Regions from separate parts of the Homo sapiens genome. Here region 1 is linked to region 2. The links come from fine-mapping of genetic effects on gene expression. Tissue or cell type: stomach. Region 2 holds a variant in brackets; the other region holds the start of a gene. All regions are shown on one strand. Distances are between the middles of the regions.

Region 1 (2,896 bases), 25 kb after region 2:
GGCAAATTTGGAAAAGGCTGACTTGGTAGTCTCTTAAATTCCCTTCAGTCCTAAATCTAGGCAGCAGAGAGCGGGTAGCGGGAAGGGCCCCTGGATGATAGCAAGAGGCCGATTCTAGCCGGACCCTGCAGTTCACATGGCCCTGTGCTGGGGAAGCCCTAGAAGGGAAGGAGGCTGCAGAGAAGGGAGTTTTCACCCATCAGTAATCAAGGTCCCAACAGAAGTGAAAATGGAAGTCAGGGAACAATTGGTTTTGAGCATCTTCGTGGGGCTTTTTCCCTTGCCTGGGACTGGCAGGACAGTGTAGGTCTGAGCAGCTTCCACGATACACACGGGGACACTTAAGCCCAAAGAATTTTTAAAACGTGCCTAAATTCCACAACTAATCAGAGGAGGCAGCAATCCAGATCTCCTGGTCTTCACCCTTCTTATTGTTGGGGTGCACCGCAGGGCACGCATGTTTCCTTGTGGCTTGTGGGAAAGCCACTGTCGTGGAGCGCCAGCGTCCCGAGTCCCTGGAAATTCTCCCAAGTGACCTGGAATCCAACATTTCCCTGGATTTTCATAGTCTATAATAGAGAGAAAGAACCGGGTCTGCGGTGGTGGGCAGGACTGAGGAAAGGCCGTGAATGCGGGAAGCACGGGAGGCAGGACTGAAAAGGAAAGAGGCACAGGGGCTCACAAAACCTGAGGGCCGCGTCCCAGTGGGTGACCTGACCCATCAAGGTCTAACACCTGGCCGTGGCAAAGCTGGGCGAGAACCCCCGATCCACCCTCCCAGTGTGGGGCAGGGAAAAGGCAGAGTGCAAAGCGAGGTCTGATTTTGCAGAAGCTTTTTAGAAATTCGCTGTCAGAGAAACTGAAAGACCAAACAAAACCCCTAAAAATCCAAGCCCGATTATTTCATCCACGTGGCACAAAAGCAAGCCAAAAAAAAAAAAGCGGGGGGGGGGGGTGGCGGTGCAGGGCGGGGGAAGAGTCACCCGTCCTGCCCCTGCTGGAAGGAAGGGATTTGCCCCGGGAGAGCAAACTTCTGACTCCGCCTGGGTCGCTGACTCCGCGCGGCCGGGCGGGAGGGAGGTCGAGGAGGCCGCTCGCACAAAGCCGCGGAGCCGCTGCCCCCTCTCCCCGCCCCCTGCCCGGCCAACGCCGAAGTGCGGAGAGCAGCCGCGGGCCCTTTAAGGGCCGCGAGGTGCGCGGTCTCTTTAAGGCGGGTCCTGGTGGTTTCTGTTTTCTGAAGGAAGTGACGGGGGGTGGGATTGAATGAAAAGTGCAAAACACAGGCTCGCAGCGCTGGAGCCCGGGGCCGCGGAGCCGGGCCGGGGCAGCGCCGTCTCCGCCTCGGGGCCGCCGGGGGCGCCCTGCTGAGCGCTACCCACGTGCGTCCGCGCCACCTCGCGGGCGACCCCGCGGCCAAGGCCCCCGGCGGAGCGGCTCCCGGGCGCCCCGAACTAGCCCCCAACTTTGGGCGAAGTTTGCCTGCGCCTCTCCCCGCCCCCACGCGGCGCGCCGGGGCCGCGGACGGCAGCGGCCCCCGGGGATGCGCCTTCCCGGGGTACCCCTGGCGCGCCCTGCGCTGCTGCTGCTGCTGCCGCTGCTCGCGCCGCTGCTGGGAACGGGTGCGCCGGCCGAGCTGCGGGTCCGCGTGCGGCTGCCGGACGGCCAGGTGACCGAGGAGAGCCTGCAGGCGGACAGCGACGCGGACAGCATCAGCCTCGAGCTGCGCAAGCCCGACGGCACCCTCGTCTCCTTCACCGCCGACTTCAAGAAGGTGAGGCGCCCTCACTCGCCGGGGTGGCACCTTCAAGCCTGAGCCCCCCGGGATCCCAGGCGCTCTCTTGCCTGCAGACGGAAAGACGGGCCCAGGAGGGAGACGCAGCTGGCCCAAGGTCACGCCGGGCTCTTCTCTACACCTCTTTGCCCACTCCCCAGGGCCCACCCCTTCATTCTCTCCAAAGAACCCCTCTGCTTCCCTTTCTCACTCCCTCCTCCAGCGCTCCCAGAGCCCCCCAGGTGCTAACCCTCCTCCAGAACTCCTACTAACGACTGGACTCCCTTCTTGGAGTCATTCCCCTGTGCTCTAGTGGGAAAGTCCTAGGCGAAGTGTTCTCGCTGTGGGCTCTCACTGTGGGTTCTCCCTGTGTGATCTAGAGCAAGCAAGCCTCTTTCCTCCTATGGGCCTGGCTTCTCACCCCTGTACAGGGCACTGAGGGGTCTGCGAGGCCTCCCAGCCCTGACATTTTGGAGTCCCTCTGTCACCTCTCCCTCTGTTTCACTTTTCTGGGGAGAGCTGGTTGCCCCTGGTCCCTCTCAAGCCGGGAGAAGCCCTGTCTCCTCTTTGGTCTGGAAGGCTGGGGCGCTTGCAGCAGGAGGATCCTGGAGAGAGACCCCAGCTGAGGCCCCCTCCCTCTGGGAGAAGTGCTGCCCTTCACTCTGCCTGGCAGAGAAGCGAGCCAACCCCCCTATTTTGGCCCAGATTAGGGTTAGGGAGTTAGAGACCAGCCCGGTGGGTGGGTGGGTGGGTGGGTGTGGGTGTGTGGGTGTGTGTCCCAGATTACGGTTTGGGAGTTAGAGACCAGCCCGCTCTTGGTGTGTGTGTGTCTGTGTTGGAGGGAATAAGAAGGGCCTTGCACCCAGGGGGCTGGGGGATTATCAGGAAATGGGCCTGGATGGTGAGTGACTAACAGTGACCCAGCAGCAGGAAAGCTGGAGGAAAAGAGGGTGGGTAAGTCTTAGGTATTCAAAAGGAGCGTTCTGTCTCCTTCCCCCAGCTAAAGAGAGGCCCTGTGAGGCTCTGTCCCTGGGGGAGTGCAGGGGTGAAGCCGATTAGATAGCTGGGGGAGCCCGGGGCCCCGGGGACCCTTGCTGAAGCTGCCTGTCTTTCCTCCCTCGTAGA
Region 2 (2,896 bases):
GGTGGCAGGCACCTGTGTCGTCACTATCTCCATCTGTCTTCAGAACCGTCCTGCTTCTCCCTCTCTGTCCCCACTTCTTACCCTTTGGCTCCTGTCTGTTTCTCCTTTCGCTCTTGTAACCTCCCTTCCCAGCCCTCACCACTGCTCCAGCCTCTTTTCCCAAGTCCTGCCTTGGCCTCTCTGCCTCTCCCTCCCTCCCCTTTCCTCCTCTGCTGCTCATTATAAAAAATAAATATTTCTAAATACGCCAAAAATGCACTCATCCCCCAAGGACCCCTGTCTAGCACAAAGGGCTGGTTCTTTCTGGCTGCTCCCTGTGGCCTCCTTCTTGCCCACTGCCTTTGAATCGTGGCCTCATTCACATGACTGGAAGGGCTAACAGGGCATTTTCCCACGTGTCCGGGTGGGGAGGAGGACAGGGTCGGGGTGGTAAGTTGGATGAAGGAGGGTGGAGACAGGCAGCTGAGAATCTTCCCAAAATTTGGCTCATCCTCAGGGGAAACAAACTGCTTACTTGATATCATGACTAACTCCTTGGAACCTACAGGATCCATTAGCGATGCGGGAAAGATTCGGGTTAGAAATCAGAATGACCATGCAAACCATGAGGACAGCCACCATGTGGAATGTTTGGTCCCCATGGCACAAAGATTTGGGCTTCTTCCTGGGATGAGTTGGGATCCCTTTGGCATGGAGGCAGAGGGGGGGCTCCGTGATTCCTGGGAGACCCTCTGGATGTGAGCACCTCTGAGATTCTGGAGGGAGCCCAGGGCTCCCTGTGCTCTGTCCTCCCACCCCACACCCCACCCTATGCTCTCTGCTCTCTGGTCAAGTCCCTGGTCCGCGGGAGCACTGACCTAGAGTGTGGAAGCTCCTCCCCTTGAAAGCTGGGCTGACCTTGCTTCAGCTGAGTCCAGGAGAAAACACACATCTGACACACCCCAGGGCTGGGGGAAGGGAGGCAGGAGCAGAGGAGGGGAGCATCCAAGGTCCTGAAGTTCCAGAAGGAGTCCAGCCTTCTCACAGAGCCTGAAGCATAGGCATGGGCAGAGCGGGTGCCGGACCTCCAAATGGCTCTCCCTCTGCACTGTGGAATCACTCCCGCAGGAGGCAGGTGGTGGGAGAAGGCCTTGGCCTCAGCATTCCCCTGCCCTTGTGTCCTCCTGTTCTGAATTTCCTAATCTCTTTCCTGCATGTCCCCTCAACAACCTCCCCTCCCCTCCCTTCCCCACCCCACACCACAGCAGCTGGGCTGCTGGAAGTCGGGAGTGTTTATGAGTTAATCAAAAACTCCTGTACTTTGCTCTTGAATTGAGGCCATCATTCCTTTGTCCCAGGGCAATGGGGTCAGTTTG[A/T]TCTCTCCTGGCTTAAATAGTGTGTAGCAAAGTAAAAGGGAAAAGTGGGGGAAGGAGAAGGGAATTTAAATTTATCAAGGGCCCCCTGCTAAACATCACGCCCTGGGCTGGGTGCTCTGCAGAGACCAAGCTCACAGCCGTGCTAGTAGCTGGGTGTTTCCATGTTACATTGAGGAAACCAAGTTGCAAAGACTTAAAGAAACCTGCCTCAGATCTCATAAATATGAAGGAAAGTGCTTTGAGGCTTCCAGTAGAGTTTGGAGGGTGTTCCTAACCCAAGATTGGGTTAAAAAATTCCATGATTGTCCACAGAATATGGACAGAAAGCTGAGAATAGCTGTGATGTTCCAGCTTGGAAAGAAGTGGGGGGTGGGAAGGGCTGAGAGGAGGCAGGGGCTGCATGCAGACTGGGCTCCTATCCAGAGGAAGAGCCCCAAGGGGGATTGGGAAGGCTTGTGAGGTTGGAAATTATGGATGGAGGGGGCTAAAGAGGAGGCCTAGAACTCCCCACTCCAAGAGCCCTGGAGAATCCCGGTCTGGCCTGAGAAGATCAGGAGTTTGGGATAAATTGCTAGAGAGGCCTTGTCCTCATGTGGGCCAAGTAAGCCCTTAAAATGGGTGCCCAGCAAAGCAAGGGGGTCTGAGGTGGCCCAGCTCTGTCCCTGCTCCCCACAGACACCTGCTACCCTGGGCATCCTACAGCTGCACTCAATCTGCCCCTCCTTCCTTCCTAGGCCTTAGGAAATATCTGTTCATTTTGTTTCTTTCCACTTTCTCTCTCCCCTTCTTCCTGTCTCCCTTCATCTGCCTGCTCCTCCCCAATCTGTCCTGAAGAGTACATTTCTTTCCCCATCAGGGAGCCTTGTGGGAATCTGGGGGGCCTGGGGCTGAGGAAGAAGAGACTTCAGATCCAAGAGCAGCCCTGAAGGATTGAGGGAGGCAGAAGGGGTGTCAGCCACTGGGCAGAGGAGTTCCTGGCAGCAGGGAGGGCCATGAGATAATTAGCCCTAGAGCTTTCTAGGCCTCTGGAAAGATGTGGGGTACAGGAACAGAAGGGAAGGAAGAGGCAGGTCAGGACTGGGGGAACTCAGGTTCCCTGGCCTGCCTGACAGAGACAGCACATGGTAGAGTTGAGAGGGGAGCCAGGGTCAGGGACAGGGCAGGCAATGGGAAAGAACAGGGACATTCCCAGGCTCAGGAGTCCCCAGGTCTCCCAGGGGAGGGTAGTCCTCGCCTGAGGTTAGGTGGCGGGCCCCGACTGGCTGGGAGTGGGTTTCTGTACGTGGCTGGAGGTGAATCACACCTTCTGTGTGGGTTGCATGTTTATATGTGGGTGTGCCGAGTCAGCATGCGTTGTCCTGCGTGTCTGCTGGTGTATGTAGGTGTTACTGGTGGGTGACAGGTCAAGGGTGTGCCCTGGTGAAGCGGGAGGGTGCCTGTGTGTGTCTGTGGGCCTCTAGACCTGAGGAACCATGCTTGAGTTTGTTCTCAGAATGTGCTGGCATATCTGTGTGCCACGTGTCCCTTTCTCTGTCTCTGTG

Which allele goes with the higher level. Positions count from the first base shown, and alleles are read on the strand shown. Sizes are in standard deviations (SD) of each study's normalised expression.
With allele T in place of A in region 2, the expression in stomach of the gene that starts at base 1,293 in region 1 is higher (moderate effect, 0.49 SD a copy in GTEx).

What was found.
Region 1: it holds the start of OAF, and the variant in region 2 is fine-mapped to the expression of OAF in stomach (GTEx, PIP above 0.99). The same link has a PIP of 0.9 or more in atrial appendage, esophagus muscle, gastroesophageal junction, left ventricle, lung and pancreas.

What each region holds. Positions count from the first base shown.
Region 1 is chr11:120,209,740-120,212,635 of GRCh38, forward strand. OAF (out at first homolog) reads left to right here and starts at 1,293. Exons shown (of 4, transcript NM_178507.4): 1 at 1,293-1,771. The coding sequence starts at 1,541. RefSeq lists an enhancer at 46-587 and silencers at 921-1,180, 1,361-1,410, 1,501-1,610.
Region 2 is chr11:120,184,353-120,187,248 of GRCh38, forward strand. LOC124902773 (a long non-coding RNA gene) reads right to left here and starts at 1,246. Exons shown (of 2, transcript XR_007062923.1): 1 at 898-1,246. LOC105369530 (a long non-coding RNA gene) reads left to right here and starts at 1,841. Exons shown (of 3, transcript XR_948101.2): 1 at 1,841-2,896. The variant A/T (reference allele first, on the strand shown) is at 1,356.